4 separate regions of the Homo sapiens genome follow, and all the other regions are linked to region 1. Evidence: fine-mapped expression QTL. A gene starts in region 1. Each other region holds a variant in brackets. All regions are shown on one strand. Distances are between the middles of the regions. Region 1 holds the start of CELSR1 (cadherin EGF LAG seven-pass G-type receptor 1). Region 2 overlaps CELSR1 (cadherin EGF LAG seven-pass G-type receptor 1). Region 3 overlaps CELSR1 (cadherin EGF LAG seven-pass G-type receptor 1). Region 4 overlaps CELSR1 (cadherin EGF LAG seven-pass G-type receptor 1).

Region 1 (4,161 bases):
CCGTGATGGACACGCTGGTGGAGGAGCTCATGGGGGGCGAGCCGTGGTCCACCGCCTCCACCCCGAAGCTGTAGTGCTCCACCTCCTCGCGGTCCAGCTCGGCACACACTGTGATCCAACCGGAGCTGTTGTGGATCTGGAAGGGGAAGTCAGGGGTGGGGGCAGGATTCTTAGGCCCAGCGCTGCCGCCCCCCAGAAAGGTGGAGGCCGTGTCCACCAGGCGATAGTGCAGCCGGGCGTTCTCTCCAGAGTCCGCGTCCACCGCCTGAATGTGCACCACGGGGTAGCCCAGGGGCACATTCTCCAGCACCGTGGCCTGGAAGGGGCTGCTCACAAAGATAGGCTCGTTGTCGTTGACATCCAGCACCTGCACAGACACCACCCCTGAAGAATTGATGAGCGGGGGCCGGCCCCCATCCTGGGCCTTAATGCTCAGCGAGTATTTCTGGACATCCTCGAAATCCAAGGGGTTGATCACATCCAGGATCCCGCTCAGCGAGTGCAGGTAGAACTGGCCGGCCACGTTCCCGCTGAGGATGCTGTAGTGAATGGCCGCGTTCTGGCCCTGGTCCCGGTCCGTGGCCTGCACTCGCAGCACAGCCGTGTTGAGCCCCACGTCCTCGGGCACCTGGACCACGTAGTTCTGCTCGCTGAACTGGGGGTAGTTGTCGTTCTCGTCCTCCACCTCGATGTACACGGTGGCCGTGGCACTGAGCGGGCCCGGATTGCGCCCCTGGTCGTTGGCCTCCACCAGGAGCTGGTACTCGGCCGCCTCCTCCCGGTCCAGCACCGCCCGTGTGCTCACCACGCCAGAGCTCTCGTTGAGCTGGAAGACGTCCCACGCGCCCCCCAACACGCGGTAACGCAAGTTGGCGTTGATGGGCGAGTCGCGGTCGCTGGCGCGGATGGTCAGCACCTCGTAGCCCACCTCCAGGTTCTCCCGCACGCGCTCGCGGTACTCCGACTGCTCGAAGACCGGGCTGTGGTCGTTGGTGTCTTTGACCAAGACAGTGATGTAGGTGGTGGCCGAGCGCGGCGGCGTACTGTAGTCCACGGCTTTCACCCTGAGGACGTGCGTCTCCTTGGTCTCGCGGTCCAGTACGCTGTCCGTGCTCACGGCGCCCGTGGCAGAGTCGATTCGGAAGTAGCCCCGGGAGCGCTCGTCGAACAGCCCCTCCATGTAATAGCTCACGCGCTCCTCCTCGCCCTCGATGGTGTAGTGCGCGTGCAGCTGGAGGATGAGGGTGCCCGCCGGTTCGTTCTCAAACAACGCCACCTGGTAGTTGGGCATCGGAAACTTCAGGCTCCCTCTGCCGCTCGTGCCCCGCCGGGCCCGTCGCGCCGGCCCCGCCCGGGCTTCGGGCAAGTTCGGCGGCAGGGGCGGCGATGGGGATGGCGACGCGGAGGGCGTCCCCGCGGTGGCGGCCTCCAGCGCCAGTCCCACCCGGACGGCGCCAGCCGCGCGCCGCAGGGCGCACAGCAGACGCAGGCGGACCGAGCCGCCCGGCGGCAGGCAGATGGGACGGCCGGGACAGCGGGGCCTGGGGCGCGGCGGGCAGCGGCAGGCGGGTAAGGTGGTCGGAGCTGCGAGCGCCGAATGCTGCGCGGCCGCGCAGCCGCCGGGGACGGGGAAGCAGAGCGCCCCGCAGAGCCGGGCACCGGTTCCGCAGAGCCGGGCACGGGCTCCGCAGCCGGGAAGGTGCGTGCGCGCCCGCAGGCGGCGGCTCAGCGCCGTCGGGGCACTGCGGGCCACCAAGCGGACTTGCAGCGGCAGCGGGCGCCCCGCGCCCGAGACGCGCCGACGTCCTGCCAGCCGCCCATCGCGGCCCACGTCCAGCAGCTCCCGCGGCGCCCGGGGCGTGCAAGCGGCGCCCACCGCGTAGGTACAGCCGGGCCGGAGGGCGAAGGCGCGGGTCCCGCCGGGTACGCGCGGCTCCCAGGCGGCCGCTCGCAGCCCCATCGCCGGCAGGGCGGCGGCGGCGGCCAGGAGCAGCAGCACGGGCAGCACGGGCGGCGGCGGCGGCGCCATGGCCCGGAGCCCGAGCCCGAGCCGGGCGCCCGAACACAATCCATGCACCCGGCGCGCCTCCGCATCCACCCGGCGAGGCCGGGGAGCGGCTCCCGGGCGCCCGGCCCTCGGGGCGGTCCGCGTCCCGCCTCCCCGGGGGCCCTGGCGGGGACTGTGGGGACCACGCGCCCGGCCTCCCCCGCAGCTTCCACTTCGAGAGCACTTTGCGAAAGTTTGCGAAGTTGGTTTCAAGATGGCTCCTCCGCGCGTCCCGGGAGGGCGCCGCGCATCAACCTGCGGCGGCGGCGGCGGCTCCAGGCGGCTCCAGGTGGCTCCGGCGCGGGCTCGGCCGGACGGGCGTGGGAAGCGGGGCGGGCCCGGCGCGGGGCGGGGGCTGAGTTCCCGGAGCGGGCTGGGCAGCTCCGCGCCGCGCAGACCCCGGCGGCCGGCTGCTGCCTGGGCGGTGCGCTTGGCCCGCGCCCACTCCGCCCGCGCTCTCCCCGCCCCCGGCCCGGCCCCGCCCCGCCCCCGGCCCAGCGGCGTATTGTTCGGCCCCGGGGGGAGCCGGCTCGGAGGTGCGCGCCGAGAGGATCGCTATGGAGACGCGAGGGCGCGGCCGGGACGGGGACTGGGGCCCTACTCCCCGGAGGCCTCCCCACCCAGCCTCCCGGTGGGGCGGGGCCGAGGCAACAGGGCCGGGAAAGGTGGGGCTGGGGCCCCCGGTGGCCGCTACCCGTGGGGCGGTGGCTCCGCACCTCGGGCTCGGGGCCGCGGCTCAGAGCCTGGCTCCCCACCCCGGCAGAACAGATCCACGGAGACCGCCGCCAGGAGTGCCGCGCGGGTAGGACCCGGGGGCGGAGGACTGGGGCCGAGAGGCCGGGGAGCCCCCCCCCACCCATTAAGGACTGCGGAGGCTGTCGAGGAGGGTTACCCATTTTACAGCAAGACGCACGGAGGCTAAAATGCTTCACCCCGACTAAAACTCCCTGGACTTTGAAGCCCAATAGGCAGCTACCGGATCTGCGTCCCACTTGGTTTAAAGCGCAACTTTTAAATGAAAGAAGAAAACCCCGGTTGACATAAGGGATTTGGAGAGGACGGCGGAGGCGCGCTCATCTCCCGCGTGCGGCCCGACCCGAGCGTTCGCGGACGCATCGCGGAATCCCCGAGCGTCCGGCTCCTCCCGAAGCGGGTTGCGGGGAAGGCGGGGGGCTGCGGGTCCTGGAAGCTGCCTGGGGCAAGCAAGCACCCGCAGGGATTTAGAGCTGTGCCACAGCCCCTGCCCAGCCTCCTACGGAGGACAGCGGGGGGCGGGGGGCAGAGACCTTAGAGCTTTCAGAAAAGTGACACACACCCCCGCCTCCTGCGGGGAACCACGGGGGGCCGGGGGCAGCTTTAGGTTTGCGTGACGGGTACACCTGCCTCCGGATGGGGCACAGGGATAAAGGGGGTGGAGGCTTAGGACTTGGCGACCCCCCGCATGGGCGGGGCTTTGGGACTGTGCCACCAGCGGCTGGGAAGGGCGCGCACTCCCTTGGTGGCGCTCGGGGCGCCGGAGTCCAGTGCAGCCCTTAGGCCTCCCAGTGGTCGGGGACGGTAGGTGGGGGTCGCCTCTTCTCTCCTAGAAGGGCTTCTCCTGGGGCCGGTCGGAGCGGTGGGGGTGGGAGTAATGCGCAGTCACCCCTAGAACGGGTCTTTTTGGCAAGGGAGGGTCGGATCCTGCAGCCAAATCTCTGAGCTGAGCTGAGATGAGTCCAGTCTCAACGAGGACCGTGGGCGGCTGTGGAGAACCGGAAGGGTTTCTCCCCCGGAGCGATGTGTCTGTGTGTGTGTCACACGCATACTCAGCCAACTTCGCTCAAAGCTGCTGAAACAGTGTCTTTGTGCTGAAGCCCAATGTGAGCATTTTCTTCCCAGTAGCAAGGATTTGAACACGTTATATTGATCTAAAAGGTGGAGTTGCTTTGGAACCTTTTAATTCGAGGTTTCCACTGGAGAGTCCTGTTGGGAAATGTGTGTGTGGAGGGAGGGGAGGAAGGAGAAAAGTCCGTCTCCTTAATGTGAGCGGTCCAGGACCTCCCCACCCGCCATATACCCTTCCACTGGGATTTTTCCGGGAAGGATGAAAGGACAGGAGTTCTGGGGCCGGAAGG
Region 2 (4,161 bases), 54 kb before region 1:
TCTCCTGTAATATCTCTGACCCAATTTAGCACCACTTTTTTCCGTTTCATTTTTTAGGACTAAAACATAAAAGAACCAGTGTCCAGAGGCAAGTGACATATGCTTTACACTTACGACCATCCTTCATTTCTTCATTCATAAACTTTGCTTAAAAGACTAAAATTCCGGCCGGGTCCGGTGGCTCACGCCTGTAATCCCAGCACTTTGGGAGGCTGAGGCGGGTGGATCACAAGGTCAGGAGTTTGAGACCAGTCTGACCAACATGGTGAAACCCTGTCTCTACTAAAAATACAAAAATTACTTGGGCATGGTGGTGCATGCCTGTAGTCCCAGCTACTCAGGAGGCTGAGGCAGAAAAATGGCTTGAACCTGGGAGGTGGAGGTTGCAGTGAGCTGAGATCGTGCCACTGCACTCCAGCCTTCCAGCCTGCGCGAAAGAACAAGACCATGTCTCAAAAAAAAAAAAGACTAAAATTCCCAATTCCTTATAAAAAATACATTATTGCCCTCAGCCCCGATGGCCACTGGCAAAGACTTTTATTTCCCAATGGATGAGAGAGCCTCCTTCACCTTCTCGGTCATAGTTGGGAGCAGGTGCATGTGGTCATCCACACACTTGGTCACACCACCTTCCAGCTTCTGCTTCAACTGAAGCTCCTTACTCCCAGCATCTATTGAATCTTTGGCTTTGTCGTTGCAATGCGTGGTGCACCGGACCAGGTGGTCCTGGAACTTCTCCAGCTCACTGGTGATCAAAGCCTGGGCTTAAGCCAGAGGCACATGGTGGCACTCGATGCACTGGTGCACCTGCTCCGTGGAGGCCTGACTGTCCTCACAACAGCTGGTGCTGCACCAGAACATGAGACAATGCATCTTCCAGATGTTCTCTCTCTCCAGACTCTTCACCATGGAGTCCACCACCTCCTGCACCCGCAGCTGCTGCAGCTCCCCAGTGGCAACCCTGTGCTGCCCCAGTTATTTGAACTTTTCTAAATCTTTTTTTTTTTTTTGAAACAGAGTCTCACTCTGTTGCCCATGCAGTGGCGTGATCTCAGCTCACTGCAACCTCTGCCTCCCGGGTTCAAGAGATTCTCCTGCCTCAGCCTCCCGAGTAGCTGGGATTACAGGCATGTGCCACCAAGCCTGGCTAATTTTTGTATTTTTAGTAGAGATGGGGTTTCGCCATGTTGGACAGGCTGGTCTCGAACTCCTGAGCTCAGGTGATCCACCAGCCTCAGCCTCCCAAAGTGCTGGGATCACAGACATGAGCTACTGCACCCGGCTGACTTTTATAAATCTTGGCCATGGCCATGTGTGGTAGACAAAATAATGTCTCACCCTCACTTCCCAAGAAGAGCTGCATGTCTCAATCCCCAGAAGCTGTGACTGCGTTATGCCACATGGCACAGGGGCACGGCCGCTCACCAGCAACCTTAACCCACGAGAGTATCCTGGAGGATCTGGGTGGCCACAGGATCCTTAAAAGCAGAGGAGGGAGGAAGAGTGGGAGAAAGAGCTTATGGGGACAGAGGAAGTCAGGGGATTCTATGCTGCTGGCCCTGAAGACAGAGGAAGGGCCATCAGCCAGAGCAGAATCTGTTCTGCCTCCCTGGGTAGCTGGAGAGGCAATACCAGATAATGAGAGCAAAGACCTGTGTAGCTCTTGCAATCCTCAGGGGACTCTAGGAGGCAGAAAATCCAATCACCCAGTTTTACTGATGAGGAAACCAAAGCACATAGAGGTTAAGTGACTTGCCCAAGGTCACAGAGGAAGTGGGTGGCAGAGTGGGATTGCATATGCCTGTAAACTCAGCTACTCGAAAGGCTGAGGCACGAGACTCACTTGAACCCAGGAGGCAAAGGTTGCAGTGAGCTGAGCTTGTGCACTGTACTCCAGCCTGGGTGAAAGAACAAAATCCCGCCTCAAAAAAAAAAGAAAATTATCTACAGGGTCCTTCATAGGGAACTCACAAGATGATTCTCTAATCTCCACAGAAGACCAATAGGTCAAGAATAGCCAAGGCATCCCTGGAGAACAGGGGAGGGGAACAAGCTCTATCTGATGTCAAGATTTATAGCCTGTAGACAAGGGAGTGCTGGCATGGAGCAGACCAACAGACTGATGGACAGAAGATGGAGCCCAGAAACAGGTCCACACGCACACACAACAGAGCTGGCAAATGGGAAAGAGGAGCATTCCCACACATGGTCCCAAGCCACTCAGCTGTCTACATAACGGACAAAGTGAAACTGGATCCCTACCTCACACCAAGCACAAACATCAATTCCAGGTGAACTAAGGACTTAAGCAGGAAAGACAAAGCCTATTTTAGCAAGGATCATTCAAAATCATGTTTATGATCTTGAGATAGGTAAGCAATTCTTAAACATGACACACAACACACTATCGTAAAGGGGAAAAAGTATGATTTTGATTACATTAAAAACAAGGACTTTAGAAAGAACCTTATTAATAAATTAATGATGAGACATTAATTAACATAAGCCACAAACTGTGAGACCCGCCTCACTGGGTGTCTAGGGCGC[A/G]GTCCTCACAGTTGAGCACACCCTCTTTATGGAAACATGCTATTCCTGACTTTTTTTTTTTTTTTTTTTTTTTTGAGACAGCGTCTCGCTCTGTCACCCAGGCTGGAGTGCAGTGGCAGCCCACAGGTTTTCCATTCAAGGTGCTTTCCCTGACAATCCCACTCTGCCACCCACTTCCTCTGTGAACTTGGGCAAGTCACTTAACCTCTATGTGCTTTGGTTTCCTCATCAGTAAAACCGGGTGATTGGATTTCCTGCCTCCTGGAGTCCCCTGAGGATTGCAAGAGCTACGTAAGTCTTTGCTCCCATTATCTGCTATTGCCTCTCCAACCACCCAGGGAGGCAGAGCAGATTCTGCTACCCCAGTGACAAGGGATGTGGGGCCCAGAAAGGCTCAGGAACTGTGCCCAGGACACACAGCTGTCTGTTGGGGATGCAGGTCGCCATCTTCCTGCCAAGGTAGAGTGAGGCCTGCAGTCTCCACGTGTCTACTCAGCTCTTTCACACCAACACTTTCAGGAGAGAAAAATAATTATTAACTGCAGAGGCTTAATGAGGATATGGAGCTGCAAGGCTTTCTAATACCAATAATTTGTACCTATTTAAGAGCAAAGGTGTAACAACAAAGGCACTGGCACCAACAGGCTCAGAAGCCACATCCCTTGCCTCCAGGTAAAGGAGCACAACTGTCAATTTCACGGAGCACAGAACATTCCCAGGCTCCCACGGGCTCCCACGCTCTGCCCTGGCTCTCAGACTCACCTGTAGGGAGGAGCGCCCCAGGCCTTCCGCCCAGAAATCCAAGGGTACAGGGCAAGAGAAGGGGAGCTGCTGGGGAGAGCCGTTACGACGGTGGGGACGGGTCCGAGGTCTGAACTGGGCACCAGTAAACCTGGCATCCACAGGGCCCACCAGCCCCAGCTGCTCAGTCCCAAGCAAGACCGCTGGGAGGGTCCTGCAGGGGACAGAGTCCCTCCTTCCACCAGCCCAGCCCAGCCCATGGTGGCAGCTGCCTCGGGCCCAGCCCTCCTCAGAAATGCAGGCTGCAGCATCTGCCAGGAACTTGGAGGAGCCACCCCTCCTAGGCCTGAAATGTGTCCCCACTCAGGGGCCCTGAAATCCCTTCCAGAATAATTTCACAGAGACCTCTTTTGAAATGCAAATACCAGGGAGAGGCTATATTAAGCCACTGACCCCTGATAGGGTTAGTGCCTCAAGTTAGAGCTGGGGGCAGCCCGGGACAGCCTGGCAAGGGGCAGCTGCGCTCACATACCACGAGAGCTACCTGGCCCACTCACTGCAGCACCTGTTTTGGCTGGGCATGGGGGTTCTGCCCCAGAGACCCTGTGGCCATCAGAGATGCTGGAGTGAGCGCTCACAGGGACCCCGCCCAGGTGCTGGGGAGGTCCGGCTGCTGCCTGAGGTCTCCAAACACTACCGAAGCCCACCTCCAGGAACAAGGATATCATCCTTGTTACTTCCAGGGACGCCTCCCTCCAATTTAGTGAATGGCGAGCAAATCATTTTCTTTGGGGGAAAAGATCAAATATTGGCCCAGACGTCTATTAATTTGCAACTTGCATTGAAACTGCTGAGAACAGAAAAGCTGAGATT
Region 3 (4,161 bases), 120 kb before region 1:
TCACCACTCACACTCAAATGCGCCCTCACCCATGCACATGCACTCATACTCGTGCACATTTACCCACGCTCACGTGCATACCCGCATTCACACCCACATGTGCACTCCCACACGTGCCTTCTCACATTCATGTGCATTTATTCATACGCTCACACGTACACTTACCCAAACTCATGCACACTCACCCACGCACACGTGCACTCACCCTTATGTACACTCACCCACAATCATGTGCATACTCAAAACCCACGTGCACTTACCGACACTCACACTCAAATGTGCACTCACCCACACGTGCGCTCATACTCACATGTGCACACCTACCCACACTCGTGCATACTCATCCACATTCACACTCACATATACACTCACCCACTCAAATGTGCCCTCACCCACACGTGCACTCATTCATACTCACATGTGCACACCTACCCACACTCGTACATACCCACATTCACACCCACATATGCTCACCCACACTCAAATGCACTCGCCCACACACGTGCACTCATATATGCACACTCAGCCACTCATGTGCACTCACGTATGCACTCACCCACTCGTGCACTCATGTGCACATTTACCCACATGTGCATGCTCACCCACTCAAATGTGCACTCACCCACACATTTACACGTGTGCTTCTTCACACACGTGCACACACCCACACACATGCATACTCACCCAGGTGCACTCACCCACTCACGTATGCACTCACACGTGTGCACACGTGGACACACCCACTCACATCATTCATACTTGCATGTGCACACACAGATATACTAGCACACACTTGTGTGCACACATGCTCACCCATACTCGTGCTCATGCTTGCACAATATACTCACCTGTACACACTCACCTTGCACACAGTCTTGCACACTAACACATGCTCATACAAAGTCATGGCCTGCTCCTGTAAAGACCTAATAGTCCCCTCTCTGTCCTCGATCTGGGCCCGCGGGACCCCCTTCCTTAGTCCCCCTGCCTCTTCTTGCCCTGATGACCTTTCTGACCAGCCTCCCTCCCTCCTGGCCTGCATCCCACTAAGGGGTGACATGCTCAGTATCTGTGTGATAAGGTGAAGGTGGGGAGAGGGCTGAATTGGGGGACAGAGCATGGAAGCGCCTGGATAAGACAGGGAGAAGGTGGGGGCCGGGGATGGTCACGGCAGGAAAACGCGACAGCCCTCGGATGGCACGTCCCAGAGCAGCGGATACACGGGTGGGTGAGAGATGCTGGGTCCATGGCTCCGCCTAAACCCGGCCCTCCCATCATCTACTCTGTGCTTCAGTTTCCTCATCTGTGAAACAGCAACAGCACCTCCTCCTCCAGGAGCTAACATGAGGATCACGTGGGGGACACACATGAGCCTGGCACAAGACAGGACATCAGCCAGTACACTTCAGCCACCACCACCCTCCCTGCCGAGGTGCTGGGGGGGTAGAGGCGGGAAAGGCCAGGAGCCCAGAGAGGGGAGGGAGGCAGCCGTGGCACAGTGCATCTCAGAGCCCCAGCAGTGAGGGGTTGGGTGGGGTGGGAAGGATGGGGGTGAGACAGAGGCTGCTGGAGGACAGTGGCTATGATGCCAGACAGGAAGCAACCTCAGCCGGGCGTGAAACTGAGGGCTGCTCCAGCCCTGGGGCGACTTTCCATAACAGGGTTCTGTAACACAAAGGCCCAGGGTGGGGCGGCGCTTGCCTCCGAGAATCACCACGTTTCCATAGCAGGTGACTTTCTACCACCTGACCAGGCC[T/C]GTGTTTGGGAACGGAAACCAAGTGACTTATCTGTCACATCACATAGCAGCATCGGGGCAGCCCCCACCTGCCACAGCGCCTGCAAGCAGGGCCCTGCACCACCTTTCTGGCAGAGCTCGCTAGCCACCTGAAGACCCCTCTATCGGCTTCTATGCCCCCATCACTTGGGCTCAAGGAGGCAGGAACATCCTGAGTCCGAGATGCAGGGTAAGTAAAGGCAGTGGCCGCCGACTTCACCAACTGATGGGAGCACGTGCAGACTGCCTTAGCAGAGGCCCCACTAGTGGATTTGACAGAACACCTGCTGGGGCTGGAGAAGCCAGGGAAGCTCACGAAGGGCGTGACCTTTCACGCAGCCACGGAACACCTGGGGAGCATCCCCATCCCCTCCTCTTAAACACGGAACTTCCTATGAGACAGAATCAAAGCCAACAAGGCCCTGAGGGCAAAATTACCAGCCTGCATGGCCACCTCCTTTATCATAAGGATTTTACATACTTTGCAAGGCTTAATTAACTTTGTAAAAGTTTAGCTTCTTTATCTTACATATTCTGTATATCCAATTATCTTTTTGTTTATTTTTTTTGTTTTATTTTTGAGACAGAGTCTCACTCTGTCGCCCAGGCTAGAGTGCAGTGGCACGGTCTTGGCTCACTGCAACCTCTACCTCCCAGGTTCAAGAGATTCTCCTGCCTCAGCCTCCCGAGTAGCTGAGATTATGGGCACCTGCCACCACGCCCGGCTAATTTTTTTGTATTTTTAGTAGAGATGGGGTTTTGCCAGGTTGGCCAGGCTGGTTTTGAACTCCTGACTTCAAGTGATCTGCCTGCCTCGGCCTCCCAAAGTGCTAGGATTACAGGCGTGAGCCACCGTGCCTGGCCCTCAAATGATTTTTTTAAACAGAATATTTAAAAGAAAAAACCAGGGCCGGGCGCAGTGGCTCACACCTGTAATCGCAGCACTTTGGGAGGCCAAGGGGGGGCGGATCACGAGGTCAGGTGACTGAGACCATCCTGGCCAACACGGTGAAACCCCGTCTCTACTAAAAAAAAATAATAATAATAAAAAATAAATAAATAAATAAATAAAAATTAGCCGGGCATGGTGGTGGGCGCCTGTAGTCCCAGCTACTCAGGAGACTGAGGCAGGAGAATGGTGTGAACCCAGGAGGTGGAGCTTGCAGTGAGCTGAGATCACGCCACTGCACTCCAGCCTGGGCGACAGAGCGAGACTCCATCTCAAAAAAAAAAAAAATGGCTCATAGTCCCATGACCCAGATAACTGCTATATTGTTTTTTTAAATACAAAGAACTCAAGTGCATGTAAGAAGGCACAGAAGGGCATAAAAGGAACACGAAATCCACCTCACTTTGCATTCTTCTTCCCATTGGTATCCACCTTTGCTATAAGGGCCACGATGATGCCTCCTGCACTGTACGTCTGGCCTCTGCAATGCCACCTCCTGGCTCTTGCCACCAATGGTCCATGTCTCTACCTAGAGGCTGGGCTTGGCCACATGACCTGGGCAACAGGACATCAGGGCACAAGGACACGAGATAAGGCCTGGAAAGCACCGTGCACTGGGACTCGCCCTCTCTGGCTGCTAGGAACCCCCTGCCACCAAGTGAACGGCCAGGGTGGCCTGCTGGAAGATGAGAGGCCCCAGCTGCCATGGCTAACGGCCAGGTCATATGAGTGAGGCCTTCACACAGCCCTGGCTGAATCGCATAGACCAGAAGAACCAGCAGCCAAACCACTGCATCACCAGGAATAATAAATATCTGATCAAGACTCCATGCTGGCCAGGCGCGGTGGCTCACGCCTGTAATCCCAGCACTTTGGGAGGCCGAGGGGGGCAGATCACCTGAGGTCAGGAGTTCAAGACCAGCCTCAACATGGAGAAACCCCGTCTCTACTAAAAATACAAAATTAGCCGGGCGTGGTGGTGCAGGCCTGTAATCCCACCTACTCGGGAGGCTGAGGCAGGAGAATTGCTTGAACCTGGGAGGCAGAGGTTGCGGTGAGCCGAGATCGCGCCTTTACACTCCAGCCTGGGCAACAGGAGCGAAACTTCGTCTCAGAAAAAAAAAAAAAAAAAGACTCCATGCTTTAGGCAGTTTATGACCTTGAAAAAGCTATCCGATGAGCACTATTAACAAGTATGGGCCGGGTGCGGTGGCTCACGCCTATAATCCAGCACTTTGGGAGGCTGAGGCAGTTGGATCACCTGAGGTCAGGAGTTCGAGACCAGCCTGGCCAACATGGTGAAATCCCATCTCTACTAAAAATACCAAAATTAGCCAGGCGTGGTGGTGGTGCGCACCTGTAATCCCAGCTACTTGGGAGGCTGAGGGCAGGAGAATGGCTTGAACTCAGGAGGCGGAGGTTGCAGTGAGCCGAGATT
Region 4 (4,161 bases), 140 kb before region 1:
AGGCCCACCTGCCTGCAACGGCCCCGCCCGAGTGTCCTGCGGGCTCCTGCAATCCCCCCTGGCTAACCAAGTTCCCTCCACCCAGCTGCCAGCCTCTAGCATTCACTCACTTGGCGAGCAAGTATTAAGGACTGTGTACAAATCAGGGTCATAAAGACAACCAGGCCAGAGATAGAGTCTGGCGTTTATGGATGTGTGTGTGCAGCGTGGGGGCCCCAGAACCTTCATCCCCCTGCAGCAGTGGTGACTGTGGCGCCGGGCATGGAGATGCTGGATCAGCCTCTTGGCAACTCCCCCTGCTCCAAGCTGTGCTCCATGCGGCAGGTGGGGGTTCCCTAAGACCAGGTCCTGCCACTTTAGTGCTGGGCCCCCACGGCCTCCACACAGCCGAATTCTGTTCCTGGCTTGCGGGCCCACCTCTGTCCCCACCCAGGCCTCTCTAGATCAGCCTCATCCCCTTACTCCTCTCCAGCTTGGCTCTGTTGCTTTCGCTCCCAGAATGCCCTCCCGCTTCAGCCACACTGGCTCCCACCTCCCTCTCCACTCCCAGGGCACCTCCGCGGCGCTCTCCCTGGCATCACATCTTGCTGATATCCAAGAATGATGTGGTGCCATCTTCTCGTGAGGTCACCAGCTCCAGGGCACAGGCTGCTTCCCACTCATGGGGTCACAGCCGGGATCACAGCACCTGCTCTAGGCTCGGGAGGACAAAGAACGGAGCATAGCAGGTGTCCCTGCACCTGATGGCCACCAGCAGCTGAGGACAATGAGCCACAGGGGCATCACCTCCACGGCGGCCTGGAACCTTGGTTTATGAAGAACCCAGCAGCTCCACCTTGGACAAAGTGACGCTTGTGATGACTACGCACCTGTACCCAGCGATCCCCGTGCAAAGGGTACAGAGCCCAGAGCCCAGAGAGCACGCTGCTGCCTGTCCTAACCACACTAGGATCTCCGCACACATCAGAAATGACTTCAAGCCCAGCGACTCGACAGAGAAAGCATTCTCTGTAAACCACATGCGTCTCCCTGCATCTCATGGGGCCTGTTTGCTCTGGGCCCAGTGAGGACTCCAGGTGAGTCATTTGCATGTTTCAGGTGTGGACACATGATCCAATGGGGTTAGTTTGAGACGTCCAAATTGATTCTCATTGCCCAAGCGTGGTGGCTCACACCCGTAATCCCAGCACTTTGGGAGGCTGAGGCAGGTGGATCACTTGAGGTCAGGAGTTCGAGACCAGCCTGACCAATATGGTGAAACTCCATTTCTACTAAAAATACAAAATATTAGCTGGGCATGGTGGCGGGCACCTGTAGGACCAGCTACTCGGGAGGCCGAGGCAGGAGAATCACTTGAGCCCAGGAGGCAGAGGTTGCAAGGAGCCAAGATCGCGCCATTGCACTCCAGCCTGGGTGACAGAGCAAGACTCTGTCTCAAAAAAATAAAAATAAAATAAAAATTAAAAAAAATTTGATTTTCACTTAATTCATGCCAAATTAAAAAAAAATATGTCCCTGTTACCCAGAATCACACATATCTTTGGGTCAAAATAAGAAAGAGAAGACACTGAGTCGAGGGAACACAGCCACATGGACTCTGAAGGTGCAGGGAGGCACCAGGGGCTGCTCTTACTTGTTCTCACAGTACGGCCCGTAGTGACTGGGCCCACACTCGCACACGTAGCCCTGCGGGGAGCCGGGGGAGCGCACGCAGGCCCCCATGTTCTCGCAGGGGTTCAGGTGACAGGCATCCACACAGTTTATTCCAAGGTACCCTGCAAGGACAGAGCCAGCATTACCTCCACCCACAATCCACGAGA[C/A]CTTCCACGTTAAAATATCTGGAGCAACCTGTCCCCTCCAGAAGATCTGACTTTCCCTGGTACTCAGCAGAGGGAAGAGGAAGAGTGCCACAGAGTCCCCGAAAACACAGCGTTAGGCGGGTTAGACTTAGTGATGCAGAGAGGAAGGCCTTCCCGGGCTGCCCCAAGGAGGGTGAGAGCCTTGGAACACGGGGCCCAGGCTGCCCCAGGACACATGGGGAATGGCCACCAGCAGAAGATGACTTAAGCACCTCAAAACTCTGAGGCCACCCTGAATGGAGGATTTTCTTAATATGCACTTTTCACTAATTCTTTTATTTATTTATTTATTGAGAAGAGTCTTGCTCTGTTGCCCAGGCTGAGGTGCAGTGGCATGATCTCAGCTCACTGGAACCTTTGCCTAAGAAGCTCAAGTGATCCTCCCACCTCAGCCTCCCACGTAGCTAGGACTACAGATGCGTGCCACCATGCCTGGCTAATTTTTGCTTTTTTTTTTTTTTTTTTTTTTTTCGTAGAGATGGGGTTTCACCATGTTGCCTGGCTGGTCTTGAACTCCTGGCTTCAAGTGATCCACCCACCTCGGCCTCCCAAAGTGCTGGGATTACAGGTATGAGCCACTGCACCCGGCCTTACTTTTCACTGTTTCTTTGCTGATCACCCCATGTGCTGAGGAGAGCGCCTGGGGCACTCTGTGCCTTGAGTAAGGAAGAGGCTCAGAGTCTCTCTCTAGGAGGGGCCCGCTTGTTATAAAATAAAGCTCAGGGCTCCACGGAACCACAGGGAGTTGGCTGGGGACGCTAATGTCTAAACTGAGCCCCCCTCCTGTGTTTCAGCCATAAGAGACCTCCCTGTCACTGAAGGGCCCCGGGAGGGCGGTCCCACCTTTGTCACAGACGCAGCTGTAGTCCTCCCAGGCGTCGTGGCAGCGGCTATTGGGGGGACAGGGGCTCGAGGTACAGGGGTCGTCCACATCACAGCCGTCCTTCACCCTGACCTTGAGTGCGTTGTTCATGTTCAGGGTGGCGACGTTGGTGGGCGTCCCCCCCATCCTCACTCCCTGCATTAAGTAAACGGCACTGGGGCTACAGGAGCCCGGAAAGGTATGTAGGGGTTAAGGGAACCCTGAGACCTCTCTGGTCCCTTGCGAGGCATTCATCTGTGATGCCTCATTTATCTACAGAGCTGGGGCGGGCAGGGTTGTTCCTCTTGCCCCACGGCCTGCTGGCCGGAGTGCAGTGGAGGGCTGGGTGAGGAGCTCAGAGGGCACGCCAGCCTGAGCTCCTGGGGTGCGCGGTGGGGGCGTGAGGAGTGGATGTCCCTGCCGAGGGGGCTGAGAGCTGAACGACTCAGAGCAGCTCCCTCGGCCGTAGCTGGAACCCCTGGCTCCAGGGGACAGGCACGGGGCCCACTTGGGTGACGTCTGTGGTTGGACTGGGTGGGGGTGGCGGCAAGGGGCTCGATTCAGGACACTTCACAAAGGCAGAGGGGCAGGTGGCTGGCATGGCGGTGGGGAGCTGTGGGGGCCAGGGACGGCCCGGATGCCAAGGGGAACCGCAGGGGAGAATGGGTCTGAAGAGGAAACAGGAGCTGTTAAAGTGGGGATGCCTGTCAGACAAATTCTTCACTCGTTGAAAGCTAACAGGTTGACCAACGGAACCACCTATGGTGCTGCCAGCCTCGGAGCTGCCTGTGAGGGGCAGGCCTCCCCCCGCCCCCCACAACCCCCACGCACCTGCATGCAGCCTCGGAATCCACGGCGCACGGAGACCTTGTCTTCAGAGGCGCCTCCGACCACCACGCTCCTTACCGTCAGCCCGGGAAGCATGCCCCCGATATCTGCCTTGTTCTGTGCGGAGAGAGGGGCCGGGGATCTGGGGGCTGCATCCACCATCCTAGAAACGTCTCTCAGATGGGAAGGATACACTGGAAGTCTAAACAGTCACTTCAACAAACTCCGCAGAGCCTGAGGACATCTGGGCCTCCAAAGAGAGAGCTGGGCCCAGCTGGACAGCGAGGCTGGCTGTGATGACCAGGGCGAGGGGACCAGGCCAGAGGATGGGTGTCCATGCCCCAGCCTAGCTGAGGCGGCCAGTGGGGTCAACGTGGGCAACTGTCCCGCCTCCGTCAAGGGCACAACACTAAACCAGCCACGCTGTGACAGAGAGCTTGGCGAGTCAGGAAGACTGCAGTGAACGGAAATCCGCTCACTCATTAACACTGTGGGAACCCAAGAGGGTCTCGGCTGAGATCCAGTCCCAGAAAGGCAGGTGCCTGGAACACACCTATTTACTCCCAGGTCTGTGTTGTAAGATGAGCCTTGGCTCCAAGAGCTCTTGGAGAT

What was found. PIP is the estimated chance that this variant, and not a neighbour inherited with it, causes the effect.
Region 2: its variant is the best candidate, but not a certain one, in a credible set for the expression of CELSR1 in unexposed skin (GTEx, PIP 0.62).
Region 3: its variant is the best candidate, but not a certain one, in a credible set for the expression of CELSR1 in whole blood (INTERVAL, PIP 0.88).
Region 4: its variant is the best candidate, but not a certain one, in a credible set for the expression of CELSR1 in lung (GTEx, PIP 0.75).

The regions. Positions count from the first base shown.
Region 1 is chr22:46,535,142-46,539,302 of GRCh38, forward strand. It overlaps CELSR1 (cadherin EGF LAG seven-pass G-type receptor 1), which reads right to left and starts at 2,479. Exons shown (of 35, transcript NM_001378328.1): 1 at 1-2,479. The coding sequence starts at 2,029.
Region 2 is chr22:46,480,789-46,484,949 of GRCh38, forward strand. The region is part of intron 1 of CELSR1 (cadherin EGF LAG seven-pass G-type receptor 1); the gene reads right to left. It also overlaps the pseudogene FAM136EP. Among named protein-coding and RNA genes, the nearest start is that of CELSR1, 55 kb to the right of the region's middle. The variant A/G (reference allele first, on the strand shown) is at 2,548.
Region 3 is chr22:46,419,770-46,423,930 of GRCh38, forward strand. The region is part of intron 5 of CELSR1 (cadherin EGF LAG seven-pass G-type receptor 1); the gene reads right to left. Among named protein-coding and RNA genes, the nearest start is that of TRMU, 86 kb to the left of the region's middle. RefSeq lists a silencer at 1,505-1,554. The variant T/C (reference allele first, on the strand shown) is at 1,757.
Region 4 is chr22:46,394,972-46,399,132 of GRCh38, forward strand. It overlaps CELSR1 (cadherin EGF LAG seven-pass G-type receptor 1), which reads right to left. Exons shown (of 35, transcript NM_001378328.1): 11 at 3,553-3,666; 12 at 2,703-2,877; 13 at 1,634-1,775. Among named protein-coding and RNA genes, the nearest start is that of TRMU, 61 kb to the left of the region's middle. The variant C/A (reference allele first, on the strand shown) is at 1,821.